Linked DNA regions of Homo sapiens: region 1 is linked to region 2. Evidence: fine-mapped expression QTL. A gene starts in region 2. The other region holds a variant in brackets. All regions are shown on one strand. Distances are between the middles of the regions.

Region 1 (12,111 bases), 20 kb after region 2:
CGCCGGGCCCCAGAAGGTGATTTCTAAAGGTCAGTCAAGGCCAAAGCAGAGTGACCACAGGGCTTATTTCCCAGCAGCCAACCAACCAACTTTATTAAATACTTTCTGTGTGTAAAACCTTGTACAGGGTCCTGAAATGTATTAAGATTTACAAAACAAAGTTCCAGCCTTTGGGAGCTTAAAAATTAGTGGAGACAATATGGTAAGCAAAACAACCATGGAATATTAAAAACTGAAGGGATATCATCCGGACACACACTTTAAAGATGAAACCAATGTTCAGGGAAGTTGAGAGCCTTGCGTAAGTTAGCAGACAAGCAGATAACCGCACGCTAACAAGCAGATAGTGGCGCTGCACGGAGAGATCAGGATCTGTGTTTGCCAACTGTTGTTCACTGTCCTTTGCATAAAAGCACATAATAATTGTGACCTGGTGACAAAATGACAAGAGGAGTTAAAAGATCCTAACAGAAGTGGTTTTGGTTAAACAAACTTGCAGCAGAGATGGTCTCTGGCTTCTAAAAGGACTACAGTTTGGGTAGGCAGCAAGGCAGGTGAGTGCCCTTCAGGCAGTGGAACAACTGAAGCAGGGGTGGGCGTGTGTATGCCAGATTAGTTGTGCAAGTGGATTAGGCTCTAGGAAAGGGCATAGAAGGATTTCCTGGGGGCGCTGGGGAGATACGTTTGGAAAAGCGTGTAAAGGCTATGGAGAGCTTGAATGACAGGGCAAAGGACGTCAATTACCTCCTAAGGCAGCATTTCCCATCCCTGCATGCCACCTTCATGACTCGGCATGGCTGCCCACTGCCCTGCGGGAAATGACAGAGGGTAGCAGTTTAAAAGTCCACACTCTGGAGTCAGATTCTTTCCATTCAAATCCCAGCTTTGACACCAATTATGTGACTTGGACATGCTGCTTCACCTCTCTGCCTCAGCTTACTTTTTTTAAATTATTTTTATTTTTTATTTATTTATTTTTGAGACAGAGTCTAGCTCTGTCACCCAGGCTGGAGTACAGTCGTGCGATCTCAGCTCACTGCAACCTCCACCTCCTGGGTTCAAGCAATTCTCCTGCCTCAGCCTCCCGAGTAGCTGGGATTACAGGTGCTCACCACCATGCCTGGTTAATTTTTGTATTTTTAGTAGAGACAGGGTTTCACCATGTTGGCCAGGCTGGTCTTGAACTCCTGACCTCGTGATCTGCCTGCCTCAGCTTCCCAAAGTGCTGGGATTACAGGCGTGAGCCACTGTGCCCAGCCTATTTTTTAATTTTTATTTTTATTATTTTTGAGACAGGATCTCGCTCTGTCACCCAGGCTGGAGTGCAGTCGTGCGATCTCGGCTCACTGCAGCCTCTGCCTCCTGGGTTCAAGCGATTCTCCTGCCTCAACCTCCTGAGTAGCTGGGATTACAGGCGCCCACCACCATGCCCAGATAATTTTTGTATTTTTAGTAGAGATGAGGTTTCACTGTGTTGGCCAGGTTGGTCTCGGACTTCTGACCTCAAGTGATGCGCTTACCTCAGCCTCCCAAAGTGCTGGGGTTGCAGGCGTGAGCCACCGTGCCCAGGCTCAGTTTGTTTGTAAAATAGAGAAAATATAAGTACGTTCCTCATGAGGATTAAGTGAGAAAGCATGTTTACTGTACTACAAACAGCAACCTGGCATTATAAGCTACCAATAAATGTCAGTTGTTGTCACTAACCTTTTCATTTAAGTCAGTTTTTTTTTCAGTTATATATGTACTGTAGCCTTGTTCTAAGCAATAATATCCACAAAATCATGGGCTTATTGTGACAATGATGGTTTTGATGATACACATATAACAAGATGTTAAATCAAAAAAATAAATAAAAAACAATAGGCCATGTGCGGTGGCTCACACCTGTAATCCCAGCACTTTGGGAGGCCGAGGTGGGTGGATCACGAGGTCAGGAGTTCAAGACCAGCCTGGCCAACTTGGTGAAACCCTGTCTCTACTAAAAATACAAAAATTATCTGGGCGTGGTGGCGGGTGCCCATAATCCCAGCTACTCGGGAGTCTGAGGCAGGAGAATCTCTTGAACTTGAGAGGCAGAGGTTGCAGGTGAGCTGAGATCTCACCATTGCACTCCAATCAGGGCAACAAGAGCGACACTCCGTCTCAAACAAAACAAAACAAAAACAAAAACAAAAACACAATAGAACACTTTAGATTCCTTTATTGTGCATTGCTGTGTTGCTTTTATGATTTCCCAAGTGCGTTTGGATATTTTTTAAAGTTTTAAAACATCCAGTCAAAGCAGCTATAGGAATTAATCAGCAAATTGACTCAAATGAGTAGCTGCATCACTTTCCAGATGAACACCAAGGTGCACCAAGATGCAACAGGTATAATGCTCGTAAGTGTGACACCAAAGAAGGATGCGCATTTTCAAAAGAGGTGCGCAAGGGCCCCTCTCTCAAGCTGAGGGTATAGAGGGTCAGAATGGGCAGAGACTGGGGAAAAATCTTTGTGGAGGAATTTTGGGGTTGCTGTTAGTGTGCTGTGATATCTCACCCTGTCCCCATAGAAAACTGGCCCTCCTGTCAAGCTGGTGAGAGGGGAATTCACCAGGACCACTCAGGAAACTTGATGTCTGTCCCCTGCAACTGGGAGGACATGGTGGACTGGCATCTGATCACCTCTTGAGACATCCAAAGGGTGGGACACACGTTGGCCATCTGCTGTTGGAGGAGCCAAGGGAGACTGCTGAGCTGGGGTCAGCCTGCCTTCCCAGGTTCACTGTGCCCAGGGATGTGTGATTGTTTCCTTGAACTAATGTGGGCCACATGCACTAATGTGGGCTGGCATGAGGTCAGAGCAGGTCTTCTCTGAGATGGTCTCTTGGGCAGACTGAAGGACCTTAGCTGAAAGAGGCTAGAGGTGAACCACTGGATTTCAGGGGCTGAGGAAGGAGCAATGATCTAGAATAGAGGATAATTTGCTCTTTTTTTTTTTTTTTAAACAGATTCTTGCTCTGTTGCCCAGGCTGGTATGCAGTGGTGCGATCTCAGCTCACTGCAACCTCTGCCTCCAGGGTTCAAGCAATTCTCCTGCATCAGCCTCCCTGGGATTACAGGCGCCCGCCACCATGCCTATCTAATTTTTGTATTTTTAGTAGCGACAGGGTTTCCACCATGTTGGCCAGGCTGGTCTCGAACTCCTGACCTTGGGTATCCGTCCATCTCAGCCTCCCAAAGTGTTGGGATTACAGGTGTGAGCCACCTCACCTGGCTGATAATTTGTTCTTTTCAAGACAATAGAAGTGAGACATCCCAGCAATTGGGAGGGTAAGGAGAGTTCTCTGAGAATCCGATAAAAATATGGACCAGGAAGCTGGAAGCCAGCAGAGTGTACCCAGTGAGCACTTTCCTGCCCCTCCCAGTCCAGTGACAAAGGAGTGGATGTATTTTTATTTTATTTTATTTTTTAGTTTTTTCCATGGGACTCTGCTTCATAAAGCGGGTGTATTTTGTACCTAGTTGAGACTATGCTTGTAAGACTTAAAGTGATCACAGAACCGTCTCCTATGAATAACCAGAAAAGTTACAGGGCCTAAGTTTTCACCCTAGACCAGGGAAAGAACTAATCCCACTGGATAAACATAAAGAGACAGTGGGAGGCAAAATTAAGTTGCTTGATGAGTACATTCCAATGAGTCATGTTTCTTTACACTCATTAGAAACATAGCTATTAAAATGAAATGTTTGTCCTTGTACCAAATGAAATCATCTCTCATCCCCCCAGTAGCATGGTACCCCCCATAAAAATAATGGGGATAGGGGAATAAGAGGTGAGGAAAATGTAAGACAGGTAGGGATGGAAAATATTGGTTTGGTGGGTTCAGTGGGAACTCATTTGCTCCTCAACCTTGAATATGATGAAATGAAAATAGAAGGAATGAAAGAATCCAAGGGTCCTTAGAAAATGGCTTTGTTTGGGCCAGGAGTGGTGGCTCATGCCTGTAATCCCAACACTTTGGGAGGCCAAGGCAGGCAGATCATGAAGTAAAGAGATCGAGACCATCCTGGCCAACGTGGTGAAACTCCATCTCTACTAAAAATACAAAACTTAGCTGGGGGTGGTGGCATGCACCTGTAGTCCCAGCTACTCAGGAGGCTGAGGCAGGAGAATGGCTTGAACACAGGAGGCAAAGGTTGCAGTGAGCTGAGATCGTGCCACTGCATTCCAGCCTGGCGACAGGGCCAGATTCCATCTAAAAACAAAAAAGGAAAGAAAGAAAAAGAAAAAGCCTTGTTCAAAGGGAACTGAAGATAGCCTAGCCATAGCCCAATTCCATGAACAAAGAAGACGTGGTCCCTGAGTTCCTGGGCTGAGTATATGGTTTAGCCTTGCCCTTTCAGGTAGTTAGGGCAACAGAGGGGGTTATACTCTCGCTAACACTGAGTTGCCCAGAAAGCACCAGCTAAATTAGCCAGGTGCTAATATAGGTGGTGCAACTACAGTCCTAGCTACTTGGGAGGCTGAAGTGGGAGGATTGCTTGAACCCAGGAGTTCAAGGCTACAGTGAGCTATGATTATGCCACTGCACTCCAGCCTGGGTGACAGAACAACATCCTGTCTCTAAAATAAACAAAAACAAAAACAAAAAAACATCAACCAGAGACCTCAAGTTCTGGAGACCCAAGTGGCAGAGGAGCAGGGATAGGGGGAAGAATCCTGGACTGAAGCAGACCCTGGAGTCCCCAGGGTCTCGGTCTTTTGTCCAAGCTGGAGTGCAGTGGTGTGGTCACAGCTCATTGCAGCCTCGACCTCCCAGGCTTAAGTGATCCTCCCACCTCAGCCTCCCAAGGAACTGGGAGTACAGACATGCGCCACCATGTCCAACTAATTTTGTGTAAAGACAAGGTCTCACTGTGTTGCCTAGGCTAGTCTTGAACTGGCAAGTGATTCTCCTGTTTCCATCTCCCAAAGTGCTAGGATTACAGGTGTGAGCCACCCTGCCTGGCTCAGTTTAAGTTTTAAGACAAGACATAAAGGTTGCTCCCCATGACATAGGAATGGTGAGTATAAGGGTGTACAGACACCACCTCTCAGCTGCCCCACTGAAGCGGTTAAAAGAGCAATGACTGGGCTGGGCATGTTGGCTCACGCCTGTAGTCCCAGCACTTTGGGAGGCTGAGGCCGGCAGTTCACCTGAGGTTGGGAGTTCCAGACCAGCCTGACCAACATGGAGAAACCCTGTCTCTACTAAAAATACAAAATTAGCCGGACGTGGGGGCGCATGCCTCTAATCCCAGCTACTCGGGAGGCTGAGGCAGGAGAATTGCTTGAACCCGGGAGGTGGAGTTTGCTGTGAGCCGAAGTCACATTGCACTCCAGCCTGGGCAGCAAGAGCTAAACTCCATCTCAAAAAAAAAAAAAAGAGCAATGACTGGTCCTAGTCCCCCTTCTTGAGAAGGGACTTCCTCCAGCTCTGACTTTGTTCCTTAGCTTCCAGTTTGACTTCTTTCTCCTTCAACACCATCTCTTCCCTCCCAACTCTGACTTCTGACAGTTCCAGACCAGCTGAGTTATTTCCTGAAAAAGGCTGGAACCTCAGCCTTTCTCAGGAAAGGCTGGATCATCTAGCATTATTACCTGAAGAGAGGTTAGAGAATATCTTGTCCAAATGATAAGAAAACTAAAAGCCAAAAAACTTGCATCACACGCCCAGAGTCACTGAGCTGTGAGGAGAACCCAAGTCTCCTGACCCCTTGCACACTGTTCCATCATACAGCCTCACGCTAGCTCTCCAAGAGGGGTCAGCTCACCTTCCTTGGACCACCACCTTAACCCTCATTCCTCTTCCATGAATACTTCAAAATGGTGGAAGAGGCCAGGTGTAGTTCTGCACCTGTAGTCCCAGCTACTTGGAAGGCTGAGGCTAGAGGATCCCTTGAGCCCAGGAGATAGAGGGATAGAGGCTTCATTGAGCTGGGATTGTGCCACTGCACTCCAGCCTGGGTGACAGAGCAAAACCTTGTCTCAAAAAAAAAAAAAAAAAACAGAAGACAATTAACTTGCTTGGAACAAACAAGAATGGATCCCAATCTACTAGCTGGTCACCTTTGAATGGAGAAATCAGTGGCTATAAATATTTTCTCAGAAGAACAGAATAATCTCATGTTTGCTGTACTTTGCTCAGTGTAGCTGGGACCCCAGAGTCATAATCAGGTCTCCACAGCTGAATTATAATGATGGGCAGGGAAAGGCCCAGAAACTAGGTTGGAGGATGAGGATTGGGGTCAAGAATCTGCAAAGATAAGCTTCTATGACTAGTGGCAGTAGGACAACAGAAATAAAAATGTTGCCCAAACAGACCGTTAAGCAAGAGGAAAATTTTGGTTTCAAAATGAAATGGGGTTTATGAGATGTATTCCTATGCCAAGCAGAAAGCGTGTTCCCTTTACAGTAACTCCCAGGCCATCTGGTCTACTTCCCTACTGCAGGGTACAGACCTCTCCTTACTGAACATTCATTGAGATGATGTTTTTCAAACAAGAATCTGTACTTCTGTCTCCTTTTAACTAGTTGTGTTTAATCCACATCAACTCTCTCTTTTTTTTTTTGAGACGGAGTTTCACTCTTGTTGTCCAAGCTGGAGTGCAATGGCATGATCTCTGCTCACTGCAACCTCCACCTCCCAGGTTCAAGCGATTCTCCTGCCTCAGCCTCCCAAGTAGCTGGGACTACAGGCACGAGCCGCCATGCACAGCTAATTTTTGTGTTTTTAGTAGAGATGGGGTTTCACCATGTTGCTCAGGCTGGTCTTGAACTCCTGACCTCAGGTGATCCACCCACCTCGGCCTCCTAAAGTGCTGGGATTACAGGCATGAGCCAC[C/T]GCACCTGGTCAATTCTCCTTTTTATGTGTTAACCTATACTGCCTCCACTTTTACCCTCTCCCCAACATTTGGTCTATTATCTGATCCAAGCTTATAAAACACAATAGATTCAGACTGGCTGGGAGATGTGGCTTATCCCTGTAATCCCAGCACTTTGGGAGGCTGAGGCAGGAGGATTGCTTGAGGCCAGGAGTTTGAGACCAGCCTGTGCAACATAGCGAGTTATAAAGACTCTGTCTCCATATAAACAATTTTAAAAGTAGCTAGGTATGGTGGCACATGCCTGTAGTCCTAGGGAGGCTGAGGCAGGAGGATCACTTGAACCCAGGAGTTCAAGGCTGCAGTGAGCTATGATTGTGCCACTGCACTAAAGCCTGAGCAACAGAGAGAGAACCCGTCTCTAAAAAAATTTTTTTATTAAAAAAAAAAAGAATCAGATAGATCTCAATTCAAATCCCAGTTTAGACACTTACTAGCTGTATGATATGGGTGATCACTTTATCTTGCAGAGCCTCAGTGTTTCCAGCTGTGAGATGGGGATAATTAATAGTAGCTATCTCATTGATATGAGAAAAGAACATATGTAAATGCTTAGCCTAATAAATGGTGATTGTCATTATTATTGCCATGATCACTGAAGCCAGCTGAAGCTCTATTTGTGGAATTAAGTCTCAGAGGGCTGAAATGGGCTGTCCAAGGTCACACAAGTGAGTGAGTCAGGGAGGGATCCCAGATTTCCTGATTCCTGAAGCCTTTGCCAACCATCAGCTCACACACAGACGAATCATTGCCCAATGACCTAGAAATCGGGGTATCTGATCACATCCAAGTACCACAGCTGGTGATTTAATAAGCACTCACCATGTGTTAGAAACTGTGCAGGCTATATGAAAGCTTTATAGCATCTATAGGTCAGTATAAGAAGGTCATCTCATTGCTTATGCCAAACTAAAAGAAAAAGAAAAAGAAAACAAGACAAAAATCTGGAACCGCTGCTTGTGTTGCCCAGTGGTAATGATATTTCTTGTCCATGTGTGTTTTAAGAAAGTAGATGAAAGTAAGACCAATGCTCTGGCTGCCTTATTCCTGGCTTTGAACAGGCCTTTTTGATTGGGAACAAGGGGAAGAGAGATACTAAGGACTTAGGGACTAAAATGGGGTTTGGCCAAGGACAGCAATGAAAAAGGAGATGGGGGTTGTCAGTGGGCTAAAAACAAGTCCCTGTCGGTGCTCTGAAGAATGGCAGTTATTGTCAGCAAGGTGGGCTTCTCGCTGCACCAGGGCCTGTCCCTCCACTGACTGTGCAAGCAATGAAACCATGGAGCCCCAGGAAGCACATTTTATCTTGAAGCATGAATCACCCCTCAGAAGTCTAGAAAAGAATCCTCTCTTTGTGGCCCTTCAATCTCCTTGGCTGGCATCCCTAGCTCCTCAGGGCTGATGTCAAGGCCTTACTAAAACTCAGGGTGAGTGACCTTTCCAATGGAAACGGATCATTCCAGAAGCTCATGTGACAGGGGTGCCTCTTAATAACTGAAAGGAAACAATGAATGAATGGGCCAGCTAGATGGCATTCGTCATTCAAGTCTAACTGCAAAAGCAGTCAGAAGTGGATAATCCAGTATGTTCTGAATGAGGGGCTTTTGGAAAGCAAAGGAATGGCAGAAAGTGATCTCTCCCCTCATCTTTTCATATTTATTAGCTCTCCCTACATTAATTGACAGCTGAAGTCTTATTTAAAAAAACAAAAAAACAAAAAAAACTGTCATGCTTCTAGAAGATGGAGCAGCCGGAAGGAGCAATCTGAGGACCCGAGACCTGTCCGTGTAGATGGTTTGCCCTCATTTCAAAGATGCTGTCTCTTCTATAATACCAGCCACACTGGGAGCCGAGAATCCCGAAAAAAATATTAAACTCCCTACTGGGAAGCCAGCAGAGTAAAGGATGGTGAAAAGCTGGATGTTCAAAAACATGAATTGTCAATGACTTTGGTTGTTCCTCAAATTGCCAGACTGGATTGTGATCCAAAGGTAAGTGGAAGCACCAAAATCAGAGGAGGGTGGAAAGTCGCCTTTCAGAACCATCCTTTGAAGGAGCAGGGGGCCAGCATCACTCTGTGACCTCCGCTCCACTACATTTATACATAGGGGAACTGATGTTAAAATGAGCATGAAGTATAGCCTCACAGGGGAGGAGAGCCGAAGGCCACACTGGGTATAAATGCAGCCTGATGAATGGGAAAACAGGGAAAGGAGCAAACCCTCTTTTCCATCTTGGAAATGTGATGGTTGACTTAGCCTCAGTTCTATCTGTGGATGTGTGTGTCGGGGTGAAAACCACTGCCTTTTCCTTGAATCACAGCAGCATGGGGCATCCCACAGCTCAAAGTCTGAGGCAAATATACGTCTTGAACCAAACACCCTGGTACTGATGTAAATTCTGGTACGTAAATTCTGAGTGCATCTTTATCTTATAGCAGAAAAGTATAACCTATGGATCTACTCGGGTACTTGATTTTAAATGCTCTTAAATCCCAGGAAAGGAAAATTTCCCCAACACATGCATTCTCACACACCACAGCCAGTGTGACAACTCTCAGTGGGACTCAGTTTCCCTAAGGGGAACCAAACCAAAAGTGCCCCCCTCCTACCCCTTCCCTAGAAATCAGCTTACACTTTACTTTTCAAATACAAAGCCTGATTTCTGAGAAGTGATGTAGAGTAAGAAGAAGATCTGGCCAATAGAGGCTGAAATTCCTCAGCTCAGAACATGAGAATCCTGTCTGATATTCCCTCCTTAGCCAGGTGTTGCCACAAAGGGAGCTAAGGCTTTGCCAGGTCAGAAATTATCCTTGCCTTAAAAGGAATGTTCCTGCAATTCAAAAATACACCCAGACCACCTTGTCTGTATATGGGAGGTAGGGAGATGGGGGAGGAGAAAAGTAAAAGCATACAAACTTGAAAACAGCCAGGCTCTGGGAGGGTTAGCTATCCCTTCCCTCCCCTCAAGGACAGCCAGATCTGATACAGTTGCCGATAAGACCAAGCTGCCTCACTCTACTGCCCTTACCCAGGTCTTTCCTTATGACATCAGAGTCCCCAACATCATCGGAGACCCTCCTCAGAAACTGGAAGGTGACAGTCACTAACATTCTAGCTGGAAACTGTACACCAGGAAAAAGCCCACCAGGAAGGAGCTCCAAGCCATCCTGGGAGGTAAGCAGAAAAAAAAGCTTGCTGCCTAAGTGCTGCAGCGAGAGCTTTTCTGATAAAAACTACACTTTTAAAACCAACACTGAGCTTTGCCTATCACAAAAGCTGTAATTTGGTCCCTTCCTGTAAAATGACACCTTTCCCTTTAGAAACAATATGTAAATCTGATACAACCGAAATAAACACAGTATAAGGCTCACTAACTCATTTAATATCTTTCATTCAAGGACTTGAGGGTCTTAAATCACTTTATAAATGTAAAAATTCATGCCTCATCACTTCAAAACAGGAAGTTAGGAGAGTATCAATTTCCCATCTTAAGGTCAGTACATTTGAGGAACATGCCACGGAAAAGCCCATCCTCTAACCACTGGAGGCTCGGAGGTCAGGCCTCCATATCATTATCCTCAGCTCCGAATAAATAGCTTGGGACAAACCAATAAAGCCGCTCCAGTGGGGAATTGAGTGAAATCAATCCTGCCTGCCTGTTAGAATGGGAAGGTCCATAGAAGTGGGCCTAGCTGTGCTTCTCTGGTGCAGTACCTGCATCTGACTTTAGCCACAAATTGCAGGGCCACAAATCTATAGCTCAGGGGACTCAGTTTTCTCCTGCTACTCCTTATTGGTCCTGGAACCTCCGTTGCTCCTGTACCTATAAGTGGCCAAAATCAACACTAAAAAAGCCTGTTGTCCCCACCCAACGCCTGCCATGCTGTGTCCCCAGTTGCCTGTATCTGTCTCCAAACACAAAGCCCCTGATGGGGGCTAAGTGTCATCTCAGCACACCCCTGAGCAAAGTGTCTCTAGAGCAAAGTGTCCTGACAGGCCCACCCTGGCCCAACCTACTTGTATCCTTGTATCATTAGGTCATTCACACAGGCAGGCGGGAGAGTCCTCCACCAGTCTAGGGCCCTCCAGTGCCTTCTGTCTCACAGGGAAGCAGATGTATCTGTCTTCCAAACAGGGAAAAAAATCTGAGCTCCCAAAGGGCTATCCTGCCACAGGATAGGAGCTGGTGGTCACATGTAAGCCAGCTCAGAACTGAAGGCACCTTGTTCCTGGAGACATAAGGCCAAGCACTGGGGACCTGGAACCTGGCCCATTTGTTTTCTAGAGAGAAAGACACTGTACCACCCCCAAGGCAGGTTGCTTGGCCCTCCCTTGATCCCTCTTCCTGGTACAGCAGAGAGAAACCCAGGCCTCTCAATTACCCAAGGCTGATAGCCACAGCAATAGCTCACTTATTACTAGGGTGCTGAGAACACATGAGAATTGGTGAGCAGAGCCCCCAAGGTTACACCAGCAGAAAGCTGCCTGGGGTCCTGCTCTTTCCCTCCAGGGAGAGCCTTGAGCAGTGCCCGAACACTCTGCCCTCCTATCTCCAAGCTCTGTACCTAAGGCAGCCAAACACCCCCAGGGAAACCCTGGGGAAAGAAAAGAGACAGTCCCCGGGAAGGAAGGGAAAGGGGTCCGTTTCTGACTGAGCATAGAAAGAGGGAAAGGAAGATACCTGGGAAAGAGGCCAATGTCTCCCTGCCCTTGCCAGGAACCGGGCTGTAACACTCCCCATCCCAGCCAGGCATCTCTCACGGAGGACCAGAGATCAGGGAGGGCAGGTGAAGAGCTGGCAGCCAGGGGGCTGGGCTGGGCCCCAGGACACGGACCTGGGGAGTGGAGGGCGCCTAGGTGTGGGGTCCATCACCCAGTTTTTCCATGCACCCTGGGGAGAAGGCGGCGGGGTCATTTTGGCAGCGTTCCCTTCCCTTCTGGAAAGTCCTCAGCCTCTAATTCAGGAGGGTCCTTGGTTTCCACTCCCAAGCCCTGGCTCCCCAGCTTCCACCCAGACTGTCACCCCCCTCCACCCTGCTGAGGTGGCCTCCTGGGTGCTCTCCGCCCGGAAGAAGAGGAGGTGTCAACCTACCGCTGCCCCTCGCTTCCCCCTGACACCCCTTTGTTTCAGGCAGGGAAAGTTGCCAACGCGCACCCCCTTCCCCAACACGCCCCCCTGTGCGCCCATCCCCCGCAGGGAATCC
Region 2 (12,111 bases):
TTTTGTTTTTTTAGATGGAGTCTCACTTTGTCACCCAGGCTGTAGTGCAGTGGTGTGAACTTGGCTCACTGCAACCTCTGTCGCCCGGGTTCAAGCAATTCTCATGCCTCAGCCTCCCAAGAGGCTGGGATTATAGGTTCCTGCCACCACACCCAGCTAATTTTTGTATTTTTAGTAAAGACGAGGTTTCACCATGTTGGCCAGGCTGGTCTTGAACTCCTGACCTCAAGTGATCTGCCTGCCTCGGCCTCCCAAAGTGCTGGGATTATAGGCACGAGTCACCACACCTGGCCGAGCCTACATTCTAATAACTATAAAAGGCAAGGCTGGGATTCAAACCCCACAAATCTGGTTCCAGAGTCTTTGCTCCTAATCAGCACACTGCACTGCCCCCGAGGCTGACTGCAGGCTCCTCTGAGGGCACTACCATTTTCTGAGTTCCTGCTTCTGGAAGGCTGGGATGGTATGTGGAGAGACAACAGGAAGCAAGGAGAAGGTTGTGAACTTCTAGGTGGTTCATTAACAAACTTCCCAACTGGGTGTCAGAGTTCCTAAAGGCTCCCAGCCTGTTCCTCGGGATCCACACAGAGGCCCTCCAGGGTCAAAGCTGACAGTCACAGGACCATGACAGCAACCAACCCTCAGGCCCCAAGGCATGCGCCATTCAAAGGCCCCTCACCAGGACACACACAACCCAGAGGCCCCCTGACTGCCAGCCCACACCAGTGCTCCTGGGAGTCTCAGATGGCCCGGCCCAGCCCTGCCATGGAGACACCAGCCAAGAGCAGGGGCCAGCTGCCCAGAGGAGCAACAGCCAGCATGTCAGGAGGAGCGGTCCGAACACAGAGGATTTCAGGGGGCCTCAGATCCCAAGCAAACCGCAGCAGGAGGCAGGGCAGGGTGAGTGGGCTTGGGGGATGGAGTCAGTTCTGGCACAGAGGTCCCTGGGGCTCAGAAAGCGAAGGATGCCCTGCACGGGGGACTGGCAGGCTGGCATCCCAGACCTGTATGTGGCTGCCTTGCTGTTACCATTCAGATCTCAGCTGAGCTGTCATATCTCAGGGACTTTTGATCCCCAGTCCAAAATAGCCTCTCTGTCACTCACATCATTCCATTTTATTTTCTACATAGCACTTTCACTTTCTGATATGTTGCTACTTATTTATGGTCTGTCTCTCCTCAACTAGAATGAAAACTTCATGAGAGCAGGGGCACTGTCTTGTTCACTGCTGTTTAGTCAGTGCCTAGAGTGGTGCCTGGCAATAATACCTAGTAATACTTGTGGAATGAATGGATGGATGAGTGGGCCCAAACAGGCCCAGGCCCTTAAACACTGATGAGGGCAGGTATAAACAGCTAGCTGCCTCGGTCTCTCTTCCCTCCTTTCTTGAGAAATATAGCCTTCTAAAACATTTAATTCTAGCATTTAATTTTTTTTCTAATTATAAAAGCAACATGTGCTCACAGCTGAAATTTAAACATTACAGAATGACATAGAAAGCAAAAGTTCCCTGTAATCACACATCTTAGAGAAAGTCACTATTAATGGTATGTTGTGTAGTCATCCGGATTCAATTTTATTTTTTAAAAAGCCAATCCATGCATCATAGAAGAAGCATTCATAGGCCGGGCATGGGGGCTCACACCTGTAATCCCAGCATTTTGGGAGGCTGAGGCGGGAGGACTGCTTGAGCCCAGGAGTTTGAGACCAGCCTGGGCAACATAGTGAGACCTCATTTCTAATAAAGAAAAAAAAAGAAAAAGCACTCATAATTCTGAACTAACAGCGATTACCATTTCTCCTTTGCAATATTTTCCTATGTGTGTATTTTACAAGTCACCATAATATACTTATTCTGCAACCTGCCATTTTTACTTGTCATAACTGTTTTTCCAAGTTGTTATATAGCCTCTGTGCTCATTATTATAATGGCTGTGTAATATTCCAGCAAGCGGAAAACTGTAATTTACTTAACCTAGATGTCCAAAGGGAACAGTTGTTTCCCATTTCTACTACTACAGATGATATAACGAGAATTACCTTTAATGCCTGTAATGGAAGAATTCAGCCCTTTTCTTCTCTGGTACTATTTCCTAATAATATATCTTAATGGATAATTCCAGAAGGAGAATCACTGAACCAAACGGTACAACAGCCTTAAGGCTGATGGCATAAATTGCTCTGGGGAGATGTGCCTCCCATCTGAGGAACGACGTTCCCACAGAGGCACCCATGGCCATCTCTTTACCCCCAACTCCCCTCCTACAGTCTAGGCTTGCTCACACCACCCTGGCTACAAATCAACTCAAGAACACACTTCCTGAGAAACTCTCCAGTCAAACTGACTTTGTAAGCCCAGGCTGAGTGGAAAACAGATTCTGGCCCTGAATTATAAACTGTCAACTAGGAGAGTCAAGATCTACCTAAAGTGGAAAAAGACCTGATTACCCCTTTTCTACTCCCTGCAAATTCCTGCATGGAATCTGAAGCTCTGGGTTCCCATGGACCAGCCTAGGAACTCCAAAAAAAGCTTGTCTGTTCAAGATTGCAAAAGCCCAGCTCTGCCTGCCATGCCTTCTGGGGAGCTTCCTTCCTGCAGGCCTCTGATCCCACCAGGCTACGGGCCCTGCACAGACATAACAGCCTTCAGGCCAGACAGGCCTCTGGGGGTTGGGAAAGCAGCCAATTGTCATTTTTTAAGGCATCATCAAGGAAAAGCCAGGGGCTGAGGCTGGAAAGAAAGGCCTGTGAGGACAGGCAGGGCTGTGCAGTTAGGAGCCTCTCACCCTACCTCGAGCTTGTCTCGCTGAGGAGGAGATGCTGCTGCTGATATGTGACAAAAGCAAGAGGACATGCTCCTCCAGATCCCCTGGTGGTCACTCTTATGGCAGCTAAGGCTCACAAATCCCCCCACCTCCCAGGGCCCTGGATGCCCTACTCCAGGCCTCCTAGACCAGCAGCACATGCATTGCTCATGGCTTCTGGGCAGAGTCCAGTCCCAGGTGATGCATGGTCCTCACTGCACAGATCTGAAGCCTGACGGCCAAAGTAGATGCTGTTTCCCAGGTGTGAGTGCTCGCTTCACTCACGCCAGACAATCTGAATGATATGGTTTGGCTGTGTCCTCACCCAAATCTCATCTTGAATTTCCACCATGTTGTGGGAGGAACTGGGTGGGAGGTAATTGAATCATGGGGCCAGGTCTTTCTCATGCTGTTCTTGTGATAGTGAATAAATCTCATGAGATCTGATGGGTTTTTGTTTTGTTTTGTTTTGAGACAGAGTCTTGCTCTGTTGCCAGGCTGGGGTGCAATGGCACGATCTTGGCTCACTGCAACCTCTGCCTCCCAGGTTCAAGCGATTCTCCTGCCTCAGCCTCCTGAATAGCTGGGACCACAGGTGCATGCCACAATGCCCAGCTAATTTTTGTATTTTTAGTACAGATGGGGTTTCACCATGTTGGCCAGGATGGTCTCAATCTGTTGACCTTGCGATCCACCCACCTCGGCCTCCCAAAGTGCTGGGATTACAGGCGTGAGCCACAGTGCCCGGCTGATCTGATGGTTTTATAAGGGAGAGTTTCCCTGCACAAGCTCTCTTTCTGCTTGCTACCAACCTTGTAATATGTGACTTGCTTCCCCTTGCCTTCCACCATGATTGTGAGGCTTCCCCAGACACGTGGAATTAACCCTCTTTTTCTGTATACATTTTCCACTCTTACGTATGTCTTTATCAGCAGCACGAAAACAAACTAATACACTGGGTCTGGCCTGGATTTTAGAGGCCATGTGGCCATAAGACGGCTCCCGCATGTGATGGCCCAATATTGCTTGACATTCCCCTCCCATTGCCCTGTGACAGGACCTTGGATGGGGAACAGACTCAGAACTAGAACCTCCAGACTCGTGCCCATGCTGATGAGGTGCCGAGCAGGCAGGATCGCTGGGCTGGTGATCCCCTGGGTGCTTGTAACATACTCACTTATCACACCCTTGAGTGTGCAGCTCACAACAGACATCAGGATCACTGTCCAGGAGTGTCCTGGGTTAACCTTTGTTGGCTGGGCCTCAGTGCCATTCTCAGCAACGTAGGCAAGCATCAGCCCTAGGGCTCAGCTGATCCTTGGCTGGGGGGCTGGCAGCTTCCATGTGTCCCTGGGAATAAAAGAGGAGGCTTTTATTAGCTTAAACTGCCCCCAGCAGATCCAAGAAAAACATTGCAAGGGCCTGGGCTCTGGGCTCAGCACCAGACACTCATCCCACCCTGGCCACCAGGGCCCCTTCCCGGAACCTACCCCCTCCTCTTTGCATCCAGTTTGCTCAGGTCTGATTAATCCAGCCACAAAAGTCTGGGATGGTCCTGGACAATCCACATGTCCAGGGTTAGGACTTAGGGCTTCTTGCCTAAATGTGTGAACACTTGTGAATCTGAGAGGGGATATAATTTTAGAATCCAGCTCCATTCTCATTCAGCTTCAAATTACATTCTCACCTTCACCCTGTAGTGGGTACATCTGTTCTCAAGGGCGGTCAGAACCTCATGGAAGGCAGACAATGTAGGACATTCGTTTCAGCACTTTGAAAGCAGAGAACAACCACTCGTGCAGAAAAACAAAATGTGTGCTAAACCTTTCTACGTACTATTCTACCTCTCTAATATTTATTCATCTCATTTTATTATTTCACCATTATTATGGTTGAGGCCCTTCCTATGAACATCAGTAACCAGCTACAAGCTAATACAAATCTTACTTTATAATGCCCTTTGCCATGTACTTTAAAAAAAAAAATCAAGTAGAGACGGGTCTTGCTATGTTGACCAGGCTGGTCTCAAGCTCTTGGCCAACCCTCCCACCTCAGCCTCCCAAAGTGCTAGGATTATAGGCGTGAGCCACTGTGCCTGGCCAGCCATGTACAGCCATGTTTTTACTACTATCCCTAAGACTTGACTATTTAATGGAGATTCCAACATTTTTTGTTTTAATATGAAAGTGCTAAAGCTTCCCTGAAAACCCCCTGGATACAACACCATCTGCATATGCCCAAGGACAGCACTCAGGCCCAGCATGGCCCTCTGGGACAGCCCAGCCACTCAGAAGCTGAGAACAGTATGTGGCTGGGGGTGGGAGCTGGCACTCCCCTGTGGATGACCAGGCAGGATGGACCAGAGGTGCTGGTCTGTGCTGATGCCCATGTCCACCTTCCCCACTCCCCTCTGACCACCAGGGTCTCTGAGTAGAGGCCGCTTGGGCCCTTGCTCAAGCTGACAACCTGTGAGGCAGCCAGGCAGCCGAGGAGAAGTGAAAGGGCAGGAGTGGGGGAACTGAAACTCACTGTATGGTGTGGTTTTGGGGGGTGCCCCCCTGGGTCTCCCCCCGGGGCCTCTGCACTGAGAGCATCACAGTGGGCTGCTGTGCTCAGCCTTGCCTCCCCCTCCCCAGCTCCTTCACAAACGGGACCCTCCAACCCTCCCTGATCTGTCCATCTTACCGGCTTCTTCCAGCCTGCCGGATGGCGGACAGGGGTCACCTTGACACGTACCTATCACCTTGAGGAAAAGGTTTTAACGGAGCATGTCCGAACCCTCTGGGACTCTCTCTCCACCAGCACCACAAGGACCATGTGCCTGGGGAGTTCAATCCCACCTGTGGAGACTTCTCCCCACCCTAGGCCCTCAGCCACATCCACGGCACAAGTCAGAACTAAAACAGAAACAGAAACCAAAGACCACATCCTGCCGGCACAGCCTGCGGGTTACTGCAGCCAGCTCTGGGAGCCCACTGCCTGCTGAGGTGCAGCCCTGGCAGATGAAGCCCCAGCACTCAGAAAGGCTCCTTTTGAGGGCAGTGTCCCACCAGACACCTCCCACTTCCTGGTCTGCAGGCTTTTTCCCCAGGAAAAACTTAGTTGCAGGGAGGATGAGATGATGGTGCACCTCTCCCTCCAAGTGCATAAGCTGTCCCTAGGCCTCACTGACACTCCCTATCCCCCAAGAGTAGATCCCAGGGGACAGGGGACATGAGGCTCCTTTGAGGACTGCAGGACCTGAACCAGAGTTTCTTGGAACATATGAATGAATGATGAGCCCTTATAGCAACTAACATATGGATGGAACTTAGATCATCTCTCATGATTTTCTCAGGCTCCTGAGGGGCAGGAAGGGCAGAAATGGTCACCTCTATTTTAGAAATGAAAACACAGAGGGTTCAGGACATTAAGAGATTTGGCCAAATCCAAACATTTGATTCAAATCCCAGTCCTCAGCCTCCAGAATCACCCTGTCCCCATACAATGTGCCTTCGAACTGCTTCCCACCCAAATCTCATCCTTAAGGCACATGTCTGCATGCAAGGGTCTTCAAGTCAGTGTAAACTACTTAGTCCATTCCAAGTAAGCTGCTTATTTTGCAAACTTATAGCTGAGTTTGTCCATGCAGCTTCTGGTCAATATGCCTGAGACGCTGCTGGGAGCGTGAAGAAGCAGAGACCACCGGCCTGTTTCAAGCACTGTCATCTCTCCTGCCCTCCTCTGCAGCCACCATTCTGACTCCTTCTTCCAGACCCTGCTCCCTCCTCACTCCTTTGCGATGCCGTCCCACAACCTCCAGGTCATTCCATCACTGATGTTCCCAGGGGGATCTGACCATCCTTCAACTGAAACATGTCATCCCATCTTAAAATTCTTTCTATGTAGCCGGGCGCGGTGGCTCACGCCTGTAATCCCAGCACATTGGGAGGCCGAGGCGGGCGGATCACGAGGTCAGGAGATCGAGACCATCCTGGCTAACATGGTGAAACCCCATCTCTACTAAAAGCACAAAAAATTAGCCAGGTGTGATGGTGGGCACCTGTAGTCCCAGCTACTTGGGAGGCTGAGGCAGGAGAATGGCGTGAACCTGGGAGGCAGAGCTTGCAGTGATCTGAGACCACGCCACTGCACTCCAGCCTGGGCGACAGAGCGAGACTCCGTCTCAAAAAAAAAAAAAAAATTCTGTCTATGTGTCTGTTTCCCCCACCACGCTATGAATTTCTTGAGATCATAAAATTTCTGCTGGATGGATGGACAGGCAAGGTGGAGAAGGGCCCAGCTGCATTTAAATTCTTGGGCGACTGAAACATCCAATGTTACTAATCAAACATAGCAATGTCTTGTGTTTTTCTCTAATTTATAGGCCACCATCACAGATGAGCCATACATGTTGGTTTACTAAAGGCAAGGCTGTCTCTGCAGGTGAAGGAAGCAAGGAGTGTGCTCACTCTCCTTTCTCCCATCTCCAGGAGCCATTGCACCACCAGAGAATGAAGAGAGGCAGAGTGGGCGGCCTGGGTTTGCACAATACAGAAGGCATGTCCAACATCACGCAAGGAAGACTGGGGCAGGAACAGACTGTTCCAGGCATCAGGGGAGATACTGCAGCCTCCTATGTGGGCAAGGGGCCAAGCGCAGGTTCAGGTCAGAGAATAACAACTCCTGTTCTGTTATTTCTACAATGTGCTGGCACTCTCAAAAGCCACATCAGTTTTCATGCACATAGGATTCACTTCCCAAAGAGGCTACTGGCAGGAAATTCCCTTCGCACCATTTTCTCTCCTTTCCTATAACTATTTAAGGTAAGCTGGGCTTGCAGGATTGAGTCTCTGCTTCTCTGACCAGAACCTAAAAATCAGATCTCTCTCCCCGGCCCCTCATCATCTCCTTGGCCTGGAACCTAACACTGGAGCCAGAAAGCATGCAGGCAAATACTACCTCTGTTTTTTTACCCCCACTCTCCTTTTCCTTAACACTCCCCAAATCTCCCTGTAAAGGAAAAAAAGTTTTTTCCTTCTGCTCTCACACTCAAAGCAGAACACTTCTGTGACCAGATATGGGGTGGGCGTGGAGGGGGGCAGATATGCCCCCCATATCTGGTCACATTTCTCCAGCAGACACCAACTGGGTCTCCTACAGTTCATTTAAACTCTGATGCTATCTATCCTGAGATAGCAGCAGATCCCACATTCTGAGGGCTCAGTCCCACAAGACTGCCCCCACTTCAGATGCCAGTCACAAGTAGATCGTCACCTATACTTCTGAACAATTGGTTACAAACCAGGGTTCCCATGACCGCCTCCTTGGGTTCTATTAATTTGCTAGGATGGCTCACAGAACCCGGGGAAACACTTACCTTTACTGATTTATCACAAAGGGTGCAGATGAGCAACCAGATGCAGAGATGGATAGGGTGACGTATTGGGGGGTCACCCACCAGCACCGCCACATGTTCAGCCACCCAGAAACCTATCAAATCTTATTCAAGAGTTTTTATGTAGCTTGATCTCCACCCTCCCACACCTTTCTTGGAGGTTGGAGGGTGAGGCCAAATGTTCTAATCCTCTAAGCATTTGGTCTTTCTGGAGACTGGCTCCATCCTGAGGCTGTCTAGCCCCTCCACCACCCCACCACTTCCCCAGTAACTTCATTAGCATAAACTCAGGTGTTATCAAAGGTGCTTATTATGAATAACAAAAGACATTCCTTTCACTCAGGAAATTTCAAGGGTTTTAGGAGCTCTATGACAGGGACCCGGGACAAAGACCGAATACATTTCTTATTACACCGCACCCTGACCCAGGTGCCCACAAAGTAGAGAAGATGCCTAAAGGCCCACTGGGGAGCCCTCTGGTTACTCAAAGCCCCCAGTTCTTCTCACGTGACTCAGAACAACCACTTTTACTTATCCTAGAGTAAGAAAAGCCCTGAGCACAAATGGATCTGGTAACTTCCTACACCAAGGAGGGGCCAAGCTCAACTACAAAAGCAATCAGTATTCCAGATTCCCTGAGGGGAAAGCCTGTGTCTGTCCAGCTCCCCCAGGAAGCAAGGAGAGGCCCAGGCCGCGGGGGCCTGCCTGGCATGGGGAAGGTGCATGGAGATGGGAGCCAGGCCCCAACCCCACGGGGCCCTGTCCTTCCCCTCTGTGCCCCTTGCTCTGAGCTTGGAAGCTGCATTGCCCCACCTGCCTGACATCTCACCCCACTGTCTTCTGTCTCACTTGGAGGCCACCTGTCCTTTCCCTCTCCTCTCCCCCTTCCTCCTCCCCATCTAGCCCACTCTATCTCACATGCCCCTCTCAAAGTCCCCCACTGAGCAAACCCTGACCACCCAACTCCATCGCCTTGGAGGGTGGTCTCTGGTCCCACGTCTATTTCCTCCCATTCCCACCCCCGGCAATCAGTAGCTGCTGCTTGCTGCCTGAAAGGCTGGACAGCTGCTGGGCTCTCTAATTAGCTGCCTGGCCGCCGTCCCAGAGTGAGGCATGTGTTACTGTAAAGAGCTGCCTCACCTTGCCTTCATCAATAATCCCCTATGCAGATCCCATCAGGCAGCGGCTGAGAGGCCCTAGAATACTCTGCACATGAGACCAGCAAGCCTTCTCCTGTCAGTCAGAAAAAAGAGGCAGTGGCCTCACAGCCTCACTGGCAAAGTGACCAGGATTTTATCTGGGTTCTTCCCACTACTGCCCATGTCCTTAGGGTGTCCTGGAGGTTACCCTGCCACGCTGCACCTTCAGAAGTGATGGGGACCCTGCCCCTTTGTTGCCTCACCAGGGAGGCAGAAAGAAGCCCAGCAGGGCTTTCAGAAGACAAGCCTGGACCGCTCTTATGGTGTGACAACAGGACTCCGCTTTTCACAGCCTGTACAGCCAAGCCACCTAGAGATTTCTAAACAACAAGGGAACTTAGTCCAAGAAGTCCTGTGGTAGCTGGTTTATTTATTCAAGGTGTTATATTCCAGCAGTCAACAAATATTTACTGAGACCCAGTGAAGGCCAGGTACTGTACCATGTGTGAACAAGACAATGTTCCTGCCCCCTTGGAGCTCACAGGCAGGTGGGAGATCAGCAATAACTAAGCAGCTCTAAACATACTATAAGTTTTAATATTATGCCATGAAGATGGGGAAGGCCAGGTGGGGGAAATAAAGAAACCCGATGCTGGAAGGTGAGTCTTAAATGTTAAGGAGGTAGCATTTGGGCATAGGTTAGAAAGATGAGAAGAAGCCGTGCAAAGAACTTTGGGAAAAGCATTCCAGGCAGAGAGGACAGTTAGTGAAGAGACCCTGAAGTAGGAGAAAGTTAGACAAGTTTGAGAAACAGCAAGGCCAGAGTAGCTGGTGTTAGGCACAGTTTATCTTCAAAGGTTTCAGTTCCTTGTTCTTTGTTCTATTCTGAAAGTAATCTTACCCATCCATCTATCAGCCCTCCCTATCTCTGTTGCACCCAAACACGCCCAAGCATATGCCATCACCTGTGTACTTGTCTTTCCCGCCAAGTGCCCACCCTTGCCTCCTTTGATGATGTCAACAGTAGCCAATCGGAATTAGTTTAGATTGTGCGGTCCAACCCCAGCCAACACAGGGAGGACACAGGAACAGGGTCTGTGTTAGGGATAAAAACCCCTGCTCTCCTTTGTTCAGTGTGCTCTCGTGATCGTAACTGACACAGGCCGCACCCTTCTGCAGGAGTAAATTGCCTTGCTGAGAAAACTTTTTCTGCCTGAGTGCTGGTTTCACTTTGCGACACCAAGCTTTATTTCCAACACTGAGGGTCAGTGTGCTTTGGATGCTGTCAATACCCTGCCTGTTGGGGTGAGCATCAGGCCCCAGCCTGGCCAATCACAGCACCACATTCCCCTGGTTCTGTGATTGGTTCAGGGATGGATACATGCTCCAATCAGAGCCAATCCTGAGATTCTTGTTGGAATGGCCACAGAGACCACAAAAGAGGCATCCTTTTCTTTTTTGTTTTGGACTTGGAGCTATAAGGATGTCAGTCTGAAATTGACAGGGTAAGGCCAGGGGCAGTGGCTCACACATGTAATAAACTTATTTATTTATTTAAAAATAATTTTTTTTTAATTGAAGGATGAGAGTTGTTCTGGGGAATCTGTGACAGTTGCTGTCTGCTCTCCATCTGAACCAATCGGTACTGTTCCTTTCCTTAAGTAACAGTCCACAGGAAAGACCACCATGCACTCAGCTGGACACTGACCCCAGCCACACCAGGCACCTCCACCATAAGCCTTAAGCCCAACAACCCCTGCCCTTCACTCAGCCCCTTACTGGACAGCTCCATCTACTGAGAAAGCACCCAGTCTTGCTAATGCTTAAAATATGGCGCCAAACAGCACTTAGGCAAGAGTAATTAAAGGGAATGTTATCTCAGTCAGTCTCTCATTAACCATGTAATTAGACTGCTGAAAATAATTAACATTCCTTTTGACAAAGGATAAGAGGACCCATTACATTCATTAGGACAGCCTCAAACCAGCCTGAGAAAGGCCGAGAAGAGAATTTAGAAATGAGACCCAAAGAGGTTATGCAGCTTTCTCAAGGTCACAGTGCTAGTAAGGGCAGGGCTAGGATTTGAAGCCAGGCAGTGTGCCTGTGGGTTCTGTGCTCTATCAGAGAAGCAGCTGTGGGGGCTACAAGGTTTCAGCCAGCAAATCCAGGCACAGGAAGGGCCCTGAATTGGTGGTTATTGAATCTGGAGCAGCCAGGCCAATCGGCCCCGCCCCCACACACCATGCTTATACTCTGGACACGGGTTGAGAGGTAGGGGATGCCTAGACCAGCTCTTGTCAGTGCTCAGCAGGTACATCCCACCCTCCTGTCCACAGCCGGTGATGGCTGGCTGTGGTGCACAGAATCAGCATTCACAGAGAGGTGACCTGAAGACCCCAAGATCCAACAGAGGAACACAGAACGAAGGCTCGCCCAACATTTGACAAGAACCAAGGCTACAGAAGAAGCACCAAATTTTAAAAACAGAAGTGGCCAGATGCAGTGATTCAGGCCTGTAATCCCAGCGCTTTGAGAGGCTGAGGTGGGAAGATTGCTTGAAGTTAGGAGTTTGAGACCAGTCTGGGCAACATAGTGAGACTTTGTCTCTACATAAAAATTTAAAATTAAATAAAGCAAATGGGGCAAAATGTTAATCACAGGTGAATCTGGGTAAAGAGTATATGAGTGTTTTGTACTGTTCTGGCAACTTTTCTGTACATTTGAAATTATTTCTAAATAAAAAGTTTGGAGGCAAAAACATCAGGGACCCTCTTATTAGGACAGGGGGTG

Evidence for each region.
Region 1: its variant is fine-mapped to the expression of TMEM229B in whole blood (INTERVAL, PIP above 0.99).

The regions. Positions count from the first base shown.
Region 1 is chr14:67,502,743-67,514,853 of GRCh38, forward strand. It overlaps a transcript of GPHN not described here and a transcript of TMEM229B not described here. Among named protein-coding and RNA genes, the nearest start is that of TMEM229B, 20 kb to the left of the region's middle. The variant C/T (reference allele first, on the strand shown) is at 6,866.
Region 2 is chr14:67,483,018-67,495,128 of GRCh38, forward strand. TMEM229B (transmembrane protein 229B) reads right to left here and starts at 5,704. Exons shown (of 3, transcript NM_001348543.2): 1 at 5,491-5,704; 2 at 3,983-4,155. It also overlaps a transcript of GPHN not described here. RefSeq lists enhancers at 5,046-5,115, 5,279-5,778, 5,416-5,835, 8,385-8,925, 8,926-9,465.